3 separate regions of the Homo sapiens genome follow, and regions 1 and 3 are each linked to region 2. Evidence: fine-mapped expression QTL. A gene starts in region 2. Each other region holds a variant in brackets. All regions are shown on one strand. Distances are between the middles of the regions. Region 1 overlaps SEMA6B (semaphorin 6B). Region 2 holds the start of PLIN4 (perilipin 4). Region 3 overlaps SH3GL1 (SH3 domain containing GRB2 like 1, endophilin A2).

Region 1 (7,426 bases), 28 kb before region 2:
AATCCCAGCCACTCGGGTGGCTGAAGCAGGAGAATCGCTTGAACCCAGGAGGTGGAGGTTGCAGTGAGCCAAAGCACTCCAGCCTGGGCGACAGATTGAGACTCTGTCTCAAAAACAAAACAAACAAAAAACCTGAGGGTCGTTGGGCAAAGCAATGGGTACCTCTGGTGAATCAGGCCCCTTTATGAGAACCTTTACGTTCGTCCTGACCACACCCTTGTCACCCCCAGGCCCGGGTGCTGCGCAGCCCCCGGGATGCAGTACAATGCCTCCAGCGCCTTGCCGGATGACATCCTCAACTTTGTCAAGACCCACCCTCTGATGGACGAGGCGGTGCCCTCGCTGGGCCATGCGCCCTGGATCCTGCGGACCCTGATGAGGTCGGTCCTGGAGAGGCAGGGCATGGCGAGGGGAGACAGGATGGGGTAGATGGAGGGTGAGAGGATCCAGATGCTCAACACAGATGAGCCCATGGCTTCCGGCGCTGCCCAGAGAGCTGGAGACACAGAGAGACAGAGAGGGAAAGATGGAGAGACACTAGGAAAGAGAGAACAAAGAGAGAGACAGAGGGATCAAGAGGTGACAGATGGGGCTGGGCACGGTGGCTCATGCTTGTAATCCCAGCACTTTGGGAGGCCGAGGCTGCCAGATCACCTAAGGCCAGGAATTCGAGACCACCCTGGCCAACATGGAGAAACCTCGTCTCTACTTAAAATACAAAAATTGGCCGGGCATGGTGGCTCACGCCTGTAATCCCAGCACTTTGGGAGGCCGAGGCAGGCGGATCACGAGGCCAGGAGATGGAGACCATCTTGGTTAACACAGTGAAACCCCGTCTCTACTAAAAATACAAAAAATTAGCTGGGCGTGGTGGCAGGCGCCTGTAGTCCCAGCTACTCAGGAGGCTGAGGCAGGAGAATGGCATGAACCCGGGAGGCGGAGCTTGCAGTGAGCCAAGATCACGCCACTGCAGTCCCGCCTGGGCGAAAGAGCGAAACTCCGTCTCAAAAATAAAATAAAATAAAATACAAAAATTAGCCAGGCGTGGTGGTGGGCGCCTGTAGTCCCAGCTACTCGGGAGGCTGAGGCAGGAGAATCACTTGAACCCGGGAGGCGGAGGTTGCAGTGAGCCGAGATCACGCCACTGCACTCCAACCTGGGGCCAGAGGGAGACTACACCTCAAAAAAAAAAAAAAAAAAAAAGAGGTAGACAGACAGACACACACCAGGAGAACAAAGGGGGAAAGAGACAGAGAGACAGGGAGAGAGACAATCAGAGACAGACAGACACCCAGAGAGACAGAGATAGGGAAGAGAGACAAAGAGAGAAAGAGACTGAAAGATACACAGACACACATACATATCAGGAGAAAGCGGGGCTGGGCACAGTGGCTCATGCCTGTAATCCCAGCACTTTGAGAGGCTAAGACGGGAGGATCACTTGAGGTCAGGAGTTTGAAACCAGCCTGGCCAAATGGTGAAACCCTGTCTCTACTAAAAATACAAAAAAAAGAAAATCAGCTCGGTGTGGTGGTGTGCGCCTGTAGTCCCAGCTACTTGGGAGGCTGAGGCAGGAGAATCGCTTGAACCCAGGAGGCGAGATCGAGCCACTACACTGCAGCCTGGGCAACAGAGTGAGACTCTGTCTCAAAAAAAACAAAACATAAACTTGCCAGGCGTGATGGCGTGTGCCTGTAGTCCCTGCTACTCAGGAGGCTGAGGCAAGAGAATTGCTTGAACCCGGGAGGCGGAGGTTGCAATGAGCTGAGATTGCGCCACTGCACTCCAGCCTGGGTGACAGAGTGAGACTCCATCTCAACCAAAGAGACAGGGCTGAGGAGAGCCTGGTTTGGGGTTATGTTTCAAAAAAGGGCGAGTGTGCCCACGTGCCTGTGTAGTCACGCATGTCCCCGGCATCCATGCACACACGCATTTATTGCTGTCACATGTGTTGGTGTGTCAGTGTCTGTATGCACCCGTGTAACTATGGCCATGCCCGTGTTGGTGGCATGTGGTGATATGGGGCCAGCCTGACCCTCCCCTGCCCTGTCCCCCAGGCACCAGCTGACTCGAGTGGCTGTGGACGTGGGAGCCGGCCCCTGGGGCAACCAGACCGTTGTCTTCCTGGGTTCTGAGGCGGGGACGGTCCTCAAGTTCCTCGTCCGGCCCAATGCCAGCACCTCAGGGACGTCTGGGCTCAGTGTCTTCCTGGAGGAGTTTGAGACCTACCGGCCGGACAGGTAAGTCTGGGCAAAGGTGGGAAGGGGTCGCCAGCAGGAGGGGAGATGGGCTGAGATGCGCTCAGCCTCACCACTCTGCTTGTCCCCAGGTGTGGACGGCCCGGCGGTGGCGAGACAGGGCAGCGGCTGCTGAGCTTGGAGCTGGACGCAGCTTCGGGGGGCCTGCTGGCTGCCTTCCCCCGCTGCGTGGTCCGAGTGCCTGTGGCTCGCTGCCAGCAGTACTCGGGGTGTATGAAGTGAGTGTCCACCCCAGGCCAGCCGTGGGCGGGAAGCAAGGGAGGATGGGCACAGGGAGGGACAGCTGGGTTCCAGTCAAAAGCCCAATGATGTCCTGGTCATTGAGCTGGGCAGAGGGCATGGCCCGTGCAAAGGCCCGCGGGCAGGACCACTCCTGGTGTGTTGGAAGAACAGCAAGGTGGCCGGTGTGGCTGGAGCACAGTGAGCAAGGGGGAGTGAGGGAGGAGGGGAGGACGGGGAGGGGATGGGAGAGGACGAGGCAGTTTGTGCAGAGCTTTGTGAGCCTCGGGGAGGACTTGGGCTTTGACCTTGAAGGAGATGGGAGCCATGTAGGGTTGCAGGCAGAGGAGGGACTGGCCCTGACTCAGGTGCTTACAGGTGCCCTCTGGTGGCTGCTGCCAGGAGGAGACTGCAGGGGAAGGAGAACCAGGGACCAGGGTGGAGGCTGTTTCCCCGTCTCTAAAATGGGAGGAAAGCTAGGATGCATGCCAGTGCTGGCACACGCCTGCACTCCATGTGAGCCGTCAATGCGGAGGACCCTGCTTCCTGCCCGCCGTTATTGCAACAATGACCCAGTAGCTCCGAGTCCAAGGGCACAGCCTCTGGCACGATGCCTGGGCTCCCATCTCAGCTCTGCCACTTGGGCAAACATTTACTTTCTGGAGCGTCAGTTTGCTTATCTGTAAAGTGGGGAGTGAACAGTGCCCTGCACACAGATTTGTTCTAAGGACTCCAGAAGTTGCTATTAAGAAGAGGGACTGGGCTTGGTAGCTCACGTCTGTCATCCCAGCACTTGGGAGGCCAAGGCAGGAGGACTCCTTGAGCCGAGGAGTTCGAGACCAGCCTGGGCAACACAGCATAGTGAGAGCCTGTCTCTAAAAAAAAAAAAAATGCAAAAATCAGCTGGGCGTGGTGGCACACACCTGTGGTCCCAGCTACCCAGAAAGCTGAGGCAGGAGGATCACTTGAGCCTGGGAGGTTGAGGCTGCAGTGAACTATGATCATGACACTGTACTCCAGCCTGGGTGACAGAGCATGACCCTGTCTCTTAAAGAAAAAAAAAATTAAATTTTAATTTAAAAAAATTTTTTTAATTTTAAAATAAGAAAACGCCAGCCGTGGTGGCTCACACCTGTAATCCCACCACTTTGGGAGTCCGAGGCGGGTGGATCACTTGAGGTCAGGAGTTCAAGACCAACCTGGTGAAACCCTGTCTCTGATAAAAATGCAAAAATTAGCTAAGTATGGTGGCGCGTGCCTGTAATCCCAGCTACTCGGGGGGCTGAGGCAGGAGAATCGCTTGAACCCGGGAGGCGGAGGTTGCAGTGAACCAAAATCCCGCCACTGCACTCCAGCCTGGGCGACAAGAG[C/T]GAAATTCCATCTCAAAAATAACTAAATAAATAAACAACAAGAGCGAAATTCCGTCTCAAAAATTAATTAATTAAAATAAAAATAAAGAGGCAGGTGCTTGGAACAGGGCCCACAGGTCACCATCACCATTGGGGTTGTGTAAGTGACTTGGACACTTGTCCCATTCGGTCCCTGGTCTGCTCTAGGAACTGTATCGGCAGTCAGGACCCCTACTGCGGGTGGGCCCCCGACGGCTCCTGCATCTTCCTCAGCCCGGGCACCAGGTACTGCGGGAGAGGGAGGTGGGTGGAGGGTGTGTCAGACCCGCCCATGATCCCAGATCCCCCTGATCTCTGACTGTGAGAGGGGCCTCTGCTGACGGTGCCTCCTCTCCCCATTAGAGCCGCCTTTGAGCAGGACGTGTCCGGGGCCAGCACCTCAGGCTTAGGGGACTGCACAGGTGAGTTGGGGGGACGGCAGGCTAAGACCCCCATCCCCCACTACCATGGGGGAGGGGAGGGAGGAGGCTGGAGGACCCTCGAATCCTCTGGGAGGTGGGTGGGGAAACTGGACTCCATCAGAGAACTTTAGAAAGGCATGGGGTGGGCCGGGCGCGGTGGCTCACGCCTGTAATCCCAGCACTTTGGGAGGCCAAGGTGGGTGGATCACGAGGTCAGGAGATCTAGACCATCCTGGCTAACACGGTGAAACCCCGTCTCTACTAAAAATACAAAAAATTAGCCGGGCGTGGTGGCGGGCGCCTGTAGTCCCAGCTACTCGGGAGGCTGAGGCAGGAGAATGGCGTGAATCCGGGAGGCAGAGCCTGCAGTGAGCCAAGATCACGCCACTGCACTCCAGCCTGGACGACAGAGCAAGACTCCGTCTCAAAAAAAGAAAAGAAAGGCATGGGGTGGTCTCATCTCATTTATTGGGGAGGGAGATAGGGGAAGAACAGAGACACCAAGAAACAGGCAGGCTTTGGCAAGGACGAAGAGACAACAGAAGGCAGACAGACCAACTTCAACAGGACAGAAGGGGCCAGGCGCGGCAGCTCCTGCCTATAATCCCAGCATTTTGAGAGGCCAAGACAGGACGATCACTTGAGGTCAGGAGTTTGAGACCAGCCTGGGGAATATAGTGAAACCCTGTCTCTAAAACAAAAACCCAAAAATAATCCAGACGTGGCAGTGCATGCCTGTAGTTCCAGCTACTTGGGAGGCTGAGGCGGGAGGATCGCTTGAGCCCAGGGAGGTGGAGGCTGCAATGAGCTGTGATCAGGCCACTGTACTCCAGCTTGGGCAACAGAGTGAGAACATGTCTTTTTTTTTTTTTTTTGAGACAGAGTCTTGCTCTGTCACCCAGGCTGGAGTGCAGTAGTGTGATCTCAGCTCACTGCAACCTCCACCTCCCGGGTTCAATTGATTCTCCTGCCTCAGCCTCCCAAGTAGCTGAGATTACAGGCGCACACCACCATGTCCGGCTAAAATTTGTATTTTTAGTAGAGATGGGTTTCACTTGTTGGCCAGGCTGGTCTCAAACTTCTGACCTCAGGTGATCTCCTGCCTCAGCCTCACAAAATGCTAGGATTATGGGTGTGAGCCATCATGCCTGGCCCAGATCCTGTCTTTAATAAAACAAACAGGTAGCTGGAGGCAGGGTTGCAGTGAGCTTTACCACTGCACTCTAGCCTGGGGGACTGTCTCAAAACAAACAAACAAAAAAAATTAAAAAATAATAAAAATAAGGCCAGTCGTGGTGGCTTATGCCTGTAATCCCAGCACTTTGGGAGGCAGAGGTGGGCGGATCACAAGGTCAGGAGTTCAGACCAGCCTGGCCAACGTGGTGAAACCCCATCCTACTAAAAATACAAAAATTAGCCGGGCGTGGTGGTGGGCACCTGTGGTCCCAGCTACTCGGGAGGCTGAGGCAGGAGAATCACTTGAACATGGGAGGCGGAGGTTGCAGTGAATCGAGATCGCCCCACTGCACTCCAGCCTGGCACACAAAGGAAGACTCCTTCTCAAAAAATAAATAAATAAAAAAAAATAAAAATAATAAAAAAGAGGACAGAGGGCCCCGAGGAGGTAGGAGGGATGCCCAGGGCCACCCCGCCGGCCCCACTAACCCCCCTGTGCTCCCCGGCCAGGACTCCTGCGGGCCAGCCTCTCCGAGGACCGCGCGGGGCTGGTGTCGGTGAACCTGCTGGTAACGTCGTCGGTGGCGGCCTTCGTGGTGGGAGCCGTGGTGTCCGGCTTCAGCGTGGGCTGGTTCGTGGGCCTCCGTGAGCGGCGGGAGCTGGCCCGGCGCAAGGACAAGGAGGCCATCCTGGCGCACGGGGCGGGCGAGGCGGTGCTGAGCGTCAGCCGCCTGGGCGAGCGCAGGGCGCAGGGTCCCGGGGGCCGGGGCGGAGGCGGTGGCGGTGGCGCCGGGGTTCCCCCGGAGGCCCTGCTGGCGCCCCTGATGCAGAACGGCTGGGCCAAGGCCACGCTGCTGCAGGGCGGGCCCCACGACCTGGACTCGGGGCTGCTGCCCACGCCCGAGCAGACGCCGCTGCCGCAGAAGCGCCTGCCCACTCCGCACCCGCACCCCCACGCCCTGGGCCCCCGCGCCTGGGACCACGGCCACCCCCTGCTCCCGGCCTCCGCTTCATCCTCCCTCCTGCTGCTGGCGCCCGCCCGGGCCCCCGAGCAGCCCCCCGCGCCTGGGGAGCCGACCCCCGACGGCCGCCTCTATGCTGCCCGGCCCGGCCGCGCCTCCCACGGCGACTTCCCGCTCACCCCCCACGCCAGCCCGGACCGCCGGCGGGTGGTGTCCGCGCCCACGGGCCCCTTGGACCCAGCCTCAGCCGCCGATGGCCTCCCGCGGCCCTGGAGCCCGCCCCCGACGGGCAGCCTGAGGAGGCCACTGGGCCCCCACGCCCCTCCGGCCGCCACCCTGCGCCGCACCCACACGTTCAACAGCGGCGAGGCCCGGCCTGGGGACCGCCACCGCGGCTGCCACGCCCGGCCGGGCACAGACTTGGCCCACCTCCTCCCCTATGGGGGGGCGGACAGGACTGCGCCCCCCGTGCCCTAGGCCGGGGGCCCCCCGATGCCTTGGCAGTGCCAGCCACGGGAACCAGGAGCGAGAGACGGTGCCAGAACGCCGGGGCCCGGGGCAACTCCGAGTGGGTGCTCAAGTCCCCCCCGCGACCCACCCGCGGAGTGGGGGGCCCCCTCCGCCACAAGGAAGCACAACCAGCTCGCCCTCCCCCTACCCGGGGCCGCAGGACGCTGAGACGGTTTGGGGGTGGGTGGGCGGGAGGACTTTGCTATGGATTTGAGGTTGACCTTATGCGCGTAGGTTTTGGTTTTTTTTGCAGTTTTGGTTTCTTTTGCGGTTTTCTAACCAATTGCACAACTCCGTTCTCGGGGTGGCGGCAGGCAGGGGAGGCTTGGACGCCGGTGGGGAATGGGGGGCCACAGCTGCAGACCTAAGCCCTCCCCCACCCCTGGAAAGGTCCCTCCCCAACCCAGGCCCCTGGCGTGTGTGGGTGTGCGTGCGTGTGCGTGCCGTGTTCGTGTGCAAGGGGCCGGGGAGGTGGGCGTGTGTGTGCGTGC
Region 2 (7,426 bases):
ACTTTGGGAGGCCAAGGTGGGAGGACTGCTTGAGCCCAGGAGTTGGAGGCTGCAGTGAGCCATGATCTTGCCCCTGCGCTCTCGCCTGGGTGACAGAGCAAGACTCTATCTCAAAAATGTTTTTAAAAAATACTTCCTAGGGAAACACACATTTTGCCCTATTTGGAACTTTGAAAAGTGAGCCCTCCTCTGCCCATGGGCCGTGCTGCTCAGCCTGCCATACTCGCTTGCTTTGCTGTTTGGGATTTGCCTCCAGAATAAAGGTCCTTTTTGTTGTTGAAAGGCCCACGTGTGTGTTCCAGCCAGGGTGAGTCTCAGTCCCAGGGGGCTGGGGGCCACGGAGGTGTGTCACTGCTGAGACATGGAGAAGGGGGTGTGTAGAGCCAGAGTTCAAGATCTAGAAGAATGGTGCTTCTCTGACCTGCCTGTCATCCTGTCTGGGATCCACCGTTACTGCCCAGCCCATGTGGGGTAAGCATTACCACTTAAAATTAGCCGGGCACCATGGCTCATATCGGTAATCCCAGCACTTTGGGAGGCTGAGGTGGGAGGATTTCATGAGCCCGGGAGTTTTGACACCAGCCTGGGCAACATAGGAGACCTTGTCTCTACGAAAAATTTTAAAATGACACATGGTACGAGCCTGTGCCCCAGCTACTCGGGAGGCTGAGGCAGCAGGATCGCTTGAGCCTAGGAAGTTGAGGTTGCAGTGAGCTTGGATCAGTAACCACTCCACTCCAGCCTGGGCAACAGAGTGAGACCCTGTCTCTAAAAATAAACAACAGCATTGCCCCTTTGGCCGCATGGAAGCTGTTCTCATCTTGGTACAGGTGAATTTCATGGAATTGCAGGGAGCAGAAAAGATGGGGAAGGAGTCAGATGGGGCAGCTCTCTCTCTACCTCCTGGTCCTGCAGGAGCTGGTCTTGCTGTGGTCTCTCCAGCTGCACTGGCCAGGATGGGAAGACAGAGGCAGGGCAAGGGCCATAGGCTGGTCTCGGGGGTTTCCTCCTGTCCTCTGACCGCATTCCTGGCTGCTCTTCCGACTCCCCTGGGGCTGGGCGGGGTGTTGGGAAACCACAGCTTGGTATGGTGAGGTCAGGGTGGCCCCTGACTTCCCTGGGACATAGTCCAGAGGGCAGCTCTGGGATCTCCGACCACTTCCACCAGCCAAATCTACCTCCCTGCTCCTGTTCTGGAATCTCCCACAGGTCCCCACTGCCCACAGACCAAACTCTTCACCTTCCAGCTTCCTCCTCCAGCCTGACCTGGATACTTTGCTCTCTTACCATTGAAGTGGGCACATTCCCACCTCCGGGCCTTTGCTGAGGCTGTGCGGCCACCTTGGAATACTCTTCCCACCCCCCATCCGTCCCTCGGACACATCTCATACATCCTCAAGGCCCAGCCTCAATGCCTCCTCCTCCAGGAAGGCTTCCAGGACTCCATCCCAGCCGGATACTTCCCTCCTCCGGTCCTCCACAGGCCACCTTCTCAAGGTTTCTTGCCCTTTCCACCTTGACTTTATAGCCACAGGCAGCCTTGCTCTCTCTTCCCACATGAGGCTGGGGGCTCCTGGCAGGGCCAGGCCTGTTGAGGATGATCAGAACAGCACATAGGGGTAGGCATTTTGGCAGAGGGAACAGCTTAGGGAAAGGCACAGCAGTAGGGAAATCAGTTTCACTGCAGCAGAGGTGAGGAAAAGAGAATGGGTTGAGCTAAGCCCTGGGATTTTTCTTTTCTTTTCTTTTCTTTGGGGGGGTGGGGAAGGAGTCTCACTCTGTCACCCAGGCTGGAGTGCAGTGGCGCGATCTTGGCTCACTGCAACCTCCACCTCCCAGGTTCAAGTGATTCTCCTGCCTCAGCCTCCCGAGTAGCTGGGATTACAGGCGTGCGCCACCACACACAGCTGATTTTTGTATTTTTAGTAGAGATAGGGTTTTGCCATGTTGGCCAGGCTGGTCTCGAACCCTGACCTCAGGTGATCCACCTGCCTCGGCCTCCCAAGATGCTGGGATTACAGGCATGAGTCACCGCGCCTGGCCCATTAATTCATTTAATTTTTATTTAAAGATATATTTTGGGCAGCCGGGCACAGTGGCTCATGCCTGTAACCCCAGCGCTTTGGGAGGCCGAGGCAGGTGGATCACGAGGTCAGGAGATCGAGACCATCCTGCCTAGCACAGTGAAACCCTGTCTCTACTAAAAATACAAAAAATTAGCTGGGTGTGGTGGCGAGTGCCTGTAGTCCCAGCTACTCGGGAGGCTGAGGCAGGAGAATGGCATGAACCCGGGAGGCAGAGCTTGCAGTGAGCCGAGATCGCACCACTGTACTCCAGCCTGGGCGACAGAGCGCGACCCCGCCTCAACAGAAATATATATATATAAAATATATTTTTTTTATTTATTTTTTTTTTTTTTTCTTTTGTTCTTTTGAGGCGGGGTGGCGCTCTGTCGCCCAGGCTGGTCTCAAACTCCTGTGCTCAAGCCAATCCTCCTGCCTCGGTCTCCCTAAATGCTGGGGTTACAGGGTGAGCCATGGCACCTGGCCTGAGGTATATATTTTTTAAAGGGAGAGGAGATCCAGGAATGCCTCTTTGAGGAAGTGATATTTGAGGAAAGACCTGGAAGGAGGTGAGGGATGTGGGAAAGGGTGCTGGAGGCAAAAGCAACAACCCACACGAAAGCCCTGAGGAAGGGTGTGCGGGGCTAAGCAGGCACAGTCACGTGTGTCTTTGAGGGACTCTGTCCTGGCATGTTATGGGAACAGTGAAAAGGCCCGTGTGGCTGGAGCAGAGTGAAGAGAAGAAGGAGAGGAAGGTGGGGAGCAGACGAGGCAGGTTATGCAGGGCCTACCGGGCTGCAGGAAGGGGACTTGGGCTTTGACCCTGGGCTCCCACCCCGGAGAAGGTGGGAGCCATGGAGGGTGCTGGGCAGAGGAGGGGTAGATCCTGGCTGGGATGTTTATGATCACTTTTTAATTTTTTCTCTCCACACACTGGGCTGTGGCTGCCCTTTGGGAAGGGGAGGGGCACCCAGAGCTCTCCCAGCCACCCTTGGGAAGCACTGGCTGGTAGAAGAGGTTGGGGGACACCCCCCCTTCTGTTCCCCCACTGTTTGGCAAACACAGTGTCGGCTCCAAGGAGACAGACGGCCTGGGAATCATCAGATCCTGTGGCTGTACCCTCCCTCCTCCCAGCCCAGTGCCCAGAGCCACCCATGGGGTCTGCCCTCTCACCCCCAATAACACAGGGCTAGGAACCCTGTCTCAGGGGCAGGTAGGAGGGGGACACAGCCCAGGGTGGGCGTTACGGCCATTCCTCTGCCCACCCACCCACAGACAGCCCAGCACATAGGCTGGGCTCAGCACGAAGGTCCTGGGTCTGGGTTTGAATCCCGTCCTCACCACTTCCTGGAACAGGAGGGTCTGGGTTTGAATCCCATCCTCACCACTTCTGGAACAGGACGCCTCCTCCAGGGAGCCTCCCTGGGTTGGCCCAAGCCCCCCAGGCTGGGTTTCCACTCCTAGGGTGCCCCCAGCTTGGCTGGTGCTCCATCTTGGTCTGCGTTTTGGCCCAAGTCCCTTCCGGAGAGTGATGGGCTCCCCTCCACACTGAGGACACCCCCTGCTCCTTGCCGAGACCCCGAGACCCCGCTTCTGCCTGGGTAACGCGAAGGCAGCATTTGTTCAGTGCATGACCTCATCTCACAGAGGCTCACAACCACTCTCTGTGTTGCTCCATTGAGCCAAACGTGTATTAAGCGCCAAATGTATGCCAGGCACTGTTCTGTGGGCGGAAGAGGGTGCCCTGTGGGAACCTGCAGGGAAGGTGTTCCAGGCAGAGGGCACAGCCCGTGCAGAGGCCCTAAGGCAGGACCGTGCCAGGTGCGCTGGAGGCATAGCGAGGAGGCCTGTGTGGCTGGGATGAAGCAAGCGAAGGAGGAAGCTGGGGGAGATGAGAGCAGAGAAGAAGCTGGATGTTACGGGACGTGGTGCGGAGTACGAGAGAGAAACCTGAAGCAAAAAGATGGTAACTGGCCAAGGCATCCTGGTGCAGCAGAGATTTGAACTACACCCACCTCGTGGATGGAACTGGAGGCTCAGGGGCCCGGGAGGGGAGCCCATCTGGCCTGTGAGCCACTCAGCCTGATGCAAGCTGTGGGCAGGAAACAGGGGAAAGGTGCTGGGCCTGGGCCCATGCTGGGCTGGGCAGGTAGCCATGTGACCGTCCAGGCCACCTCCCCCGGGCCCATTGGCCGCCTGCCGCTGCTGGCTGGGCCTGCGCCTGCCCCGGACCCTATAAGGCCAGGGAGCTGAGGGTAGAGCCAGCTGCCAGCCGGGCCGGTCCGTCCTCCAGGGGACCCCGCGCAGTCCAGGTGAGCGGGGCCGCGTCTGCTTCGGTGACACCAGGGTGAGGCCAGGCCTGCAGGTGGGTGTCGGGCTGCTCAGGCTTTCAGTGGGGAGTGGGTGTGGGATGGGAGGCTAGGGAACCCCCATTCACGCACCTTCTCTGCCCCCTTCCAGCTTCTCACGTTCTCACTATGTCTGCTCCAGACGAAGGGAGACGGGATCCCCCCAAACCGAAGGGCAAGGTAAAGAGGGGAAATGGGGCAGATTCTTGCTGGGGCCTGGAGATGCCCCAGAGCCGGGGAAGGTGACCTCCACAGTCCTGGGGTCTCGAATCTGGAGAGGTGCTTCCCTGGTGGGCTGGTGGGGGCGGTCTGGGAGCCATGATGCCAATCCCTTCCTTTCTGACCCAAGCTGGAGGCGGGGGACCCACGCAGACCTCGACACCTTCCCCAGCAAGTGACCTTGGGCCGGCCTCAGCTCCGCCCCTCTCTGAGCCTCAGTTTCCCCATCTGTGCAGTGGGGATCCTGGAAGGAAAAGGTCTTTGGAGATCGGGTAGACGATCTTTTCCTCTGTGCATGGGAGGCAGGCTGAGTCTGCCCATTGCCCAGGTGTGGAAATTGAGGCTGAGTGGCTGAAACACTTTCCTGAGGTCACCCAGGAGCAAGGGGCCGGGGCGGCATTGGGCTGATCAATCGATGCTTCCTCTGACCCGTTCCTGCCGAGGCTTGGCCTGCTCATCCTGCACACCCCCCGCCCCCATGCAGACCCTGGGCAGCTTCTTTGGGTCCCTGCCTGGCTTCAGCTCTGCCCGGAACCTGGTGGCCAACGCACATAGCTCGGCGAGAGCCCGGCCGGCCGCTGACCCCACAGGAGCGCCTGCTGCCGAGGCTGCCCAACCACAGGCTCAGGGTGAGTGGCTGGCCCAGCTGGGGGCGTGGGGGGACTCTACACATGGACCTGGGAGAAGGAGCTCCCCGGGCAGGGACTTCCAGCCATTTGGGGAGTCCTCCATATTTGTCTGTGTGCTCTCATCAGACACTAGGACATCTTGTGGTGGATGGGGAAACTGAGGCATAAATATGGGGGGTGAGTGGCCGAAGGTGGCTTTCAACCCAGCCTGTCTCCCTGCAATGCCCCCCCACTCAGTCCCTCGGCCGTTCCCCCACCCTGCACTCCGTTTCTGATGCACCATGGCCCAGGCTGGGTGCTCTGCCCATCTGAGCTCATCAGAGTGAGATCCAGACTCCCAGGGAGGAGCAACAGCTCCCCTGGGGTCACACAGCCCAGGGGCTCCCCAGCCTCCTGTGGCTCAGCTTGGGCGATCAGGGACGGTGACAGGGAACCCAGGGTTGGGGCAGCCGCCTGAGCTGGGCCTCCCTCTGGGCCCAGAGCCCCAGGCAGCTGACTTCTGCTCCACATGCCTTGGCCTGGCAATAGGCAGCAGGCAGCTGCGGTGGGGGCGGGGCGGGCTGGGCAAGGGGCTGTTCCCCCATGCCAGGCTATATGAACCCCGGGACTCAGGGTGGGTGTCCACCCAGCAGAGGAAGTTCCACAGAGCCCTACTTCAGGGAACAGCGGCCCTGGGCTTGGGGGGAGCCCCCAGCGGGGTTGGGGGGTGACCAGGTCTGGCTGGTAGCCGTGGATGTCACCTCCTGCTGTCCCTGGCGGGGTAGCTGAAACATTCCTGACCTTTTAGGCTGTGCCTGGCTATTGTGCAATGGGCAGCCGGGTAGATGGTTCTAACTGCATCCCTCACTCTCCCTGACCGGCCCCTGTCCCCACAGTGGCTGCCCACCCAGAGCAGACGGCCCCATGGACGGAGAAGGAGCTGCAACCTTCGGAAAAGGTGAGAGGATGTGCAGGGCAGGGTCTGATGTGGCAGGAGCCCTGGGGGTGCCCCCTCCTGCGACATTTCAGTTCCTGCTATCTGGGGGGCTGCTCCCTCCTGGGACATTTCAGTTCCTGCTATCTGGGGGGCTGCTGTGGGCCTGAGGGAAGGCAGACAGCCTGGGGATCCCAGGCGGAGCTTCCCCTCTGAGCCTCTATTTCCACATCTGTGAAATGGGTGCAGTGCTACCCCACTCTAATCACGTAAGGTTCCAGTCTACACAGGGCTGTGCCTGGCAAGATGAGACCAAAGCGACAGCAGCGTAAGCACTTTATTTCTTCTACTTTTATTTTTTGAGATGCAGTTTTGCTGTTTCACCCAGGCTGGAGTGCAGTGGCACAATCTCAGTTCACTGCAACCTCTGCCTCCCAGGTTCAAGCGATTCTCCTGCCTCAACCTCCTGAGTAGCTGGGACTACAAGTGCTCACCGCCATGCCCAGCTAATTTTTGTATTTTTAGTAGATACGGGGTTTCACCATGTTGGTTTCACCAGGCTGGTCTCCAACTCCTGACCTCAAGTGATCCACCCACCTCAGCCTCCCAAAGTGCTGGGATTACAGGCATTAGCCACTGCGCCTGGCAAGAGGATCTGTTTTAATCAGCATTTTCCAGATGAGGATATTAGCTCAGAGAGGGCATGTGGCTTGCCTAAGGCCACACAGCGAGTGTCGGGAGCAGGAGAGGGTAAAAAGCTGGGACTTGAACCTGGGTCTCTCCAACTACAGGGCCCAAGGTGCCCACCTGAGCCAAAGCTGGGAGATGTGTTCTGAGAATACAATTTCCGGGCTTCTCAACCTCAGTACTGTGGATATTTGGGGTTGGATCATTCTCTGGGGTGGGGCCATCCTGGGCACTGCAGGGTGCCGAGCAGCATCCCTGGTCTCCACCTACTCCATGCCAGGAGCCTCCCCAAGTTGTGACAACTACAGATGTCTCCAGACATCACCCAGTGCCCCCTGGGGGCAGAATCACCCAGTTGAAAACTACTGAATTAAAATAGCACCTTGGCCGGGCACGGTGGTTCACACCTGTAATCCCAACACTTTGGGAGGCTGAGGCAGGCAGATCAGTTGAGCTCAGGAGTTTGAGACCAGCCTGGCCAACATGGTGAAACCTCATCTCTACTAAAAATACAAAAATTAGCTGGGCATGGTGGTGCACGCCTGTAATACCAGCTACTCAGGAGGC
Region 3 (6,372 bases), 160 kb after region 2:
GGGCCAGGTGAAGAACCCCGGCTACCCGCAGTCGGAGGGGCTTCTGGGCGAGTGCATGATCCGCCACGGGAAGGAGCTGGGCGGCGAGTCCAACTTTGGTGAGTGGTGCTCTCTGGAAGCCACGCCCACCGTCCCTGGAGGCCACACCTCAACACAGGCAGGGCAGGTCCAGGCCCTGCATGTGCTGAGTGCCGGGGACGTACAGTGGCCCCCACAGCTTTCCAGCTGCAGAGGTGCAGGAGACTGCACAGACCAACCCATCCAGCACTGGCCAGCAGCTGATAGGGCCCCTTCCTGTAGCTCCAGACCTTCCCCAACTCAAGCCAGCTGCTTCCCCAGGGCCTGGACCCCCCAGCATCTGTCCTTCCACCTGTTAAGGGCAAACCTAGGCCCTTTTAGGAGCATTGGAGGGTCTGGTTTAACGTCCAGCATCGATTCGGATTTTAGGATCCTTTGTTTTGCCCTGAGTTCCAATTTCCGGGCCCTGGGCTTAGAGTGTTGGGGGGCTGTTAGAAGTTGGGATGGGGCCAAGTGTGGTGGCTCATGCCTGTAATCCCAACACTTTGGGAGGCCAAGGCAGGTGGATCACCTGAGATCGGGAATTCGAGACCAGCAAGACCAATATGGAGAAACCCCACCCCGCTTCTACTAAAAAAAAAAAAATATATATATATATATATACACACACACACACACACACACACACACACACAATTAGCCGGGTGTGGTAGTGCATGCCTGTAACCCCAGCTACTCGGGAGGCTGAGGCAGGAGAATCACTTGAACCCAGGAGGTGGAGGTTGCAGTGAGCCGAGACTATGAAAAAACAAAACAAAACAAAACAAAACAAAAACCGGGTGCGGTGGCTCACGCCTGTAATCCCAACACTTTGGGAGGCCGAGGCGGGCGGATCACAAGGTCAGGAGTTCGAGACCGGTGTGGTCTATATGGTGAAACCCCGTCTCTATTAAAAATACAAAAATTAGCTGGATGTGGTGGCAGGCCCCTGTAATCCCCCTTACTCAGGAGGCTGAGACAGGAGAATTGCTTGAACCTGGGAGGCAGAGGTTGCAGTGAGCTGAGATCATGCCACTGCACTGCAGCCTGGGCAACAGCGAGACTTCATCTCAAAGAAGTTGGAAAGGATCCAGGTGTGGGGGTGAACGCCTGTGGTCCCGGCTACTTGGGAGGCTGAGGTGCCAGCATGGCTTGAGCCCAGTTTGAGGCCTGCAGTGAGCTGGTACAGCGCCACTGCGTTCCAGCCTGTGAAACGCTATTTCAAAAACAAAGGCTGAGGAGTGTCTCAGTCTAGTGGTCCCAGGCCCGGTATGATGGCTTCCCCCACCACTTCTCCACAGGTGACGCATTGCTGGATGCCGGCGAGTCCATGAAGCGCCTGGCAGAGGTGAAGGACTCCCTGGACATCGAGGTCAAGCAGAACTTCATTGACCCCCTCCAGAACCTGTGCGAGAAAGACCTGAAGGAGATCCAGGTGCTGCTCCTGCGCCAGCCTGGGGCCTGTCCCTTCCCCCTGCCGGATGGGGCAGCCCCATTCCTGCCACCCTCACCTCCAGCCTCGGCACTGCCCTCTGGGTCTCAGGCAGGCAGGATCCCCAGTGGTGCAGGGACAGTGGGTCAAAGCCATGCGTGGGGCGGCCCTCTGGCCGCTACTGGTGTGACCCATGTCCCCCACGTCTCCAGCACCACCTGAAGAAACTGGAGGGCCGCCGCCTGGACTTTGACTACAAGAAGAAGCGGCAGGGCAAGATCCCCGATGAGGAGCTACGCCAGGCGCTGGAGAAGTTCGAGGAGTCCAAGGAGGTGGCAGAAACCAGCATGCACAACCTCCTGGAGACTGACGTGAGTAGCTCGGGGTGTCACATCCTGAGAAGACCTATGCCCTTGGGAGGCCGGGGTGGTGCCTCAAGGGAGCTGGAGGACAGATCGGCACCTACCTGGCCGCTGCAGCAGGGGAGGTGGAGGGTATGGGCCCCAGTCCCCTGTCCCCTCTCAGCCCCCTTGCCTCCTGTGGCTTCACCTCGGGAGTCAGGGAAGGCACAGGACAGTGGCACTGGCAGGAGCCCCTGAGCCCTACTGTCCCCACAGATCGAGCAGGTGAGTCAGCTCTCGGCCCTGGTGGATGCACAGCTGGACTACCACCGGCAGGCCGTGCAGATCCTGGACGAGCTGGCGGAGAAGCTCAAGCGCAGGTGAGCCCAGGGCCTTGGTCTCTCCAGAGTCTGGGCTGCCATGCGCCCTCTGCCAGCGCAAGTGGGCAGCACACCTCGCTGTGGGGTGAGCACATGGCAGAGCAGCATCCTGGATTCTTCCTGGGGACTGAGTGGAAAGGCCTGGGGGGCCGCGAGGTCAGAGGAGCTGGGGCTCTGAGAACTCTGAGTCAACACCCAGCCCTGCCCCGATGCAGGCCCCGGGGACTCCCTCCCTGGCTGCACGTTGCTGCTGCCACAGGAACACCCAGGCTCCCCTCCCTGAATGCAGAGGCCAGACCTGCTTCAGGGGCCTTGGCGTATGTGGGGCGCCGTCCGTGGTGGGGAATTGGGGGAGGAGGCAGGGGATGCGACTGGGGGTGTTGTAGGTAGATGCTGTGGCAGGCCCCAGCTG[C/T]TTGGCAATCTCTGGGATGCCTCCAAGGTGGGGGTCCAGGCTGGAGGCCCTCTGGGTAGACATCCCAGTCTAGCTGTGTCCCAGGGTCCATGTGTCACAACCCCACTGACGGCCTCTTCCTGCAGTCCCAGGCCAGGTCATTAGGCAGCAGCATAAATACAAGAGTGGGGCTGCCTCGGCCGTGACACGGGCTCGGTCCACTCACGCCTCTCCCTTCACAGGATGCGGGAAGCTTCCTCACGCCCTAAGCGGGAGTATAAGCCCAAGCCCCGGGAGCCCTTTGACCTTGGAGAGCCTGAGCAGTCCAACGGGGGCTTCCCCTGCACCACAGCCCCCAAGATCGCAGGTAATGGGGCATGGAGCCCTCTTGCGGAGGCAAATGCCAGCGGGTGGGAGTGGCCAAGGGCTGGCCCTGTCCTGGGTCTCTGAGCGCCAGACTCCTGGGTGCAGCTCTCAGCCGTGCTCCATCTGGACCGCCAAGGCAGACGGGAAGGGCTGGCCCCAGCCTTCTGCAGAAGGGGCCCTGCCCGACCGTTTTGAGCCCACAGCCTCCTCGTTTTGCTTGTGTTTAGCTTCATCGTCTTTCCGATCTTCCGACAAGCCCATCCGGACCCCTAGCCGGAGCATGCGTGAGTGTTCCCAGGCCCGCCTCGACCTCAGTGCTGCCTTCTCGGCCATTCGGGGAGGGTGTTTCTCCTCCCGCCCTGTTCTCTGCCCATCTCAAGCAGGGAGGGGCCAGGCTCGTGCAGCAGTAGGGGGCACAGGCCCCACAGCCTGCAAGATGCCACCCCTCTGGGTCTCAGCCTCACAGTGTGAATGAGGGATTGCCAAGGGCACTAGCCCAGCTAGCTCTAGGCTGTGTGGTGGCTACAAGGGCTTGAGGGCATCTGGTCACTCCCTGTCACCGCAGCAGCACCGGGTGTCCCCAGCACTTCCCAGGAGTAGCTTTGGTGACCACTTAAACCAAGCTTCTCCCATCCTCCCTCCTGGGTGGCAGTAGAGGCCGGACCCCAGAAGTGGCAGGGGCAGGGGGTGGCCCAGGCAGGGCAGAGGGGAGGCCCATGCCCACCCACACGCTCCAGGTCACAGCAGGTCTGAGACCCCAGACTGGGCGGGGTGAGGCGTAGCAGCCCCAGCCCCACAGCCCGCTCCCGCCCCCAGCGCCCCTGGACCAGCCGAGCTGCAAGGCGCTGTACGACTTCGAGCCCGAGAACGACGGGGAGCTGGGCTTCCATGAGGGCGACGTCATCACGCTGACCAACCAGATCGATGAGAACTGGTACGAGGGCATGCTGGACGGCCAGTCGGGCTTCTTCCCGCTCAGCTACGTGGAGGTGCTTGTGCCCCTGCCGCAGTGACTCACCCGTGTCCCCGCCCCGCCCCTCCGTCCACACTGGCCGGCACCCCCTGCTGGGTCTCCTGCATTCCACGGAGCCCCTGCTGCCAGGGCGGTGTCTGAGCCTGCCGGCGCCACCTGGGCCCCGGCCCTTGAGGTACTCCCTGAGCAGGACCCCACACTTGGGTGGGGGGGCTTATCTGGGTGGGTGGGGATGCCTGTTTACACTAGCGCTGACTCCCAACGGTGACGGCTCCCTTCCCCACTCCATGGCGCCAGCCTCCTCCCCCGCTCCCCAACTTCTCGCCCAGCTGGCCGAGGCGGGGCAACACTAAGGTGCTCTTAGAAACACTAATGTTCCTCTGGGGCAGCCCCCACCTCCGTCCTGACCCGACGGGGGCCCGGCCCACTGCCTACCCTCGAGTCCCGCAGCCTTAACAGGATGGGATCGAGGGTCCCCATGGGGTGGCTCAGAGATAGGACCCTGGTTTTAAATCCCTCCCAGCCTGGTGCTGGTGATGGGCCCTGGCCCTACTCCAGGGCCAATGCACCCCCGCCTCACACACGCACTCCTTCTCCTCAAGGCCAGGGCAGAGGGCCTCACCGCCTCCCGGGCCTGCTGTCAGCTTGCAGCCCGGGGACAGAGGCCAGCTGGGATCTGCCTGAGGACAGAGAACATGGTCTCCTGCAGGGCCCTGCCTCCCAAGCCCCGCCCTCAGAAAGCCAAGTACCTTTTCAGCTTTTTAACTGCCCCCATCCCAACCCAGGGAGGCCTGTGTCACTCTGGCACAAGCTGCCACCACCAGCCACCCACACCCACCCCAGCACACCTCACACGGGACCACAGCCGCGCTGCCGAGGGCCAAGCACAAAGGTTCCAGTGAGCGCATGTCCCAGCCCCTGGTGGCCAGGCTCCCCTTGCTGAGCCGCTGCCACTTCACCCTGTGGGAAGTGGCCCCAGCCATCTCCTCTAGACCAAGGCAGGCAGCCCCGACATCTGCTTCCTCTATCGCCCAATGCAAAATCGATGAAATGGGGAGTTCTCTGGGCCAGGCCACATTCACATTCCCCTCCCCCTGTGGTCCAGTGAAGCCTCCGGACCCCAGGCTCTGCTCTGCCCTGCCCTGCACCCCCCTCGTCAGAAGTACATGAGGGGCGCAGAGATGAGCACACAGCTTTGGGCACGGTCCAGGGCAAACTGAAATGTACGCCTGAATTTTGTAAACAGAAGTATTAAATGTCTCTTTCTACAGCCCCTTGCCTCGTCTTGGTGCAGGGGTGGGCCTGCCACCCACCGCCTTCCTGAGGGGCCGGCTCCAAAGCCACACACACCCCAGGAGGTCCCTCCAGCACCCCAGGTGCTCCTGAGCCCAAGGTGGGTGGGACTGGCCCTGAGGCTTTTGTGCCAGTTCCCAGGTGCAGGGGCTGAGGGGTATCCTGGAAGTTAATGCCCTGCCCTGGAAGTGAGGAAGCTGGGGTGATGGTACCAGCCTGGGCACCCAGCCACCCTCACCCCAGCCTTGGGGAGACCAGCGTGGCTGGCTGCTGCTTCCGTTTCTTTATTACCTGAGCCCATCCGGACCCTCAAGACAACTGGAGCCCACCCTGCCCTGGAAGGCTCAGCTCCCCTGCTTGAGGACGCCGCACACCTGTTCCAGGACGTGACACAGGCTCTGGTCCTTGGGCGTCCTGCTGGCCAAGGAGATCTGAAACGAGGGGGCTGGGCCTCAGGCTGTGCCCGGGGGTCCTAGCCAGCCCTGCGCCTCACAGTCCACCGTGCAAGTCCAGCATCCTGACTGAGCCCCCCTGAGACCGAGGCACAGGGCTGGGGTCCCGCAGCACAGCCTGCTGCTTACCCAGTGGGGCAGTATGTAACCGAGGGCCTGGCTCCCAGGGGCAGCGGTGCTGTGTGGAGGGGTGGGGCTTATGTGCACACTCCCGATCCTGCCCCCACTTCAGCCCCTCCCTGCCTGGTTCCAGACACCCATGGGGACACCACAGCCTCCACAGCTAGCCGAGAGCTGAGCAGAATGAGTCCCTTTCTATGCCAGGTGGAGGGAAACCAGGAACCACTACCCTAAGACACTCAGGGGTGGCCAGGACCCTGGGCCCTCTGCAGGGGAGCCACTCCCAAAACCCGCTGCCAGGACCTCATCCGGCACTGCCGGAGCTTAAAGCTCCACAGTCCAATCAAATCTGGCCTGCACCCTGCTGGGGTGGCCACGGGGTGACCAGGGTCACCAGTCTGCCAGCTGGGCTGTCTCAGGCCCCTGAGGCCCACGGGGCTCATTGCTGCCACCTTTTAGGCTGCCCAGGGGGCCTCTCCTGGGGCCCCGTTAGGAGGTCTGCGGGGACTTGGGGCTCACCTTAAGCTTGTCGAGGTAGGTGTGCTCCTGGCTCCAGGGTTCCTGGAG

The links. PIP is the estimated chance that this variant, and not a neighbour inherited with it, causes the effect. A credible set is the group of variants that fine-mapping cannot tell apart.
Region 1: its variant is the best candidate, but not a certain one, in a credible set for the expression of PLIN4 in whole blood (TOPMed, PIP 0.56).
Region 3: its variant is the best candidate, but not a certain one, in a credible set for the expression of PLIN4 in whole blood (INTERVAL, PIP 0.79).

What each region holds. Positions count from the first base shown.
Region 1 is chr19:4,543,077-4,550,502 of GRCh38, reverse strand. SEMA6B (semaphorin 6B) reads left to right here. Exons shown (of 17, transcript NM_032108.4): 12 at 231-380; 13 at 2,058-2,240; 14 at 2,330-2,476; 15 at 4,034-4,111; 16 at 4,229-4,287; 17 at 5,974-7,426. The coding sequence ends at 6,902. Among named protein-coding and RNA genes, the nearest start is that of LRG1, 6.8 kb to the right of the region's middle. The variant C/T (reference allele first, on the strand shown) is at 3,848.
Region 2 is chr19:4,515,387-4,522,812 of GRCh38, reverse strand. It overlaps PLIN4 (perilipin 4), which reads left to right and starts at 4,327. Exons shown (of 8, transcript NM_001367868.2): 1 at 4,327-4,428; 2 at 4,524-4,591; 3 at 5,115-5,259; 4 at 6,135-6,196. The coding sequence starts at 4,541. PLIN5 (perilipin 5) reads left to right here. Exons shown (of 8, transcript NM_001013706.3): 8 at 1-282.
Region 3 is chr19:4,359,208-4,365,579 of GRCh38, reverse strand. It overlaps SH3GL1 (SH3 domain containing GRB2 like 1, endophilin A2), which reads left to right. Exons shown (of 10, transcript NM_003025.4): 4 at 1-98; 5 at 1,359-1,492; 6 at 1,702-1,860; 7 at 2,107-2,210; 8 at 2,844-2,968; 9 at 3,195-3,251; 10 at 3,784-5,210. The coding sequence ends at 3,980. It overlaps MPND (MPN domain containing), which reads right to left. Exons shown (of 13, transcript NM_001300862.2): 12 at 6,325-6,372; 13 at 5,502-5,664. The coding sequence ends at 5,578. Among named protein-coding and RNA genes, the nearest start is that of MPND, 19 kb to the right of the region's middle. The variant C/T (reference allele first, on the strand shown) is at 2,623.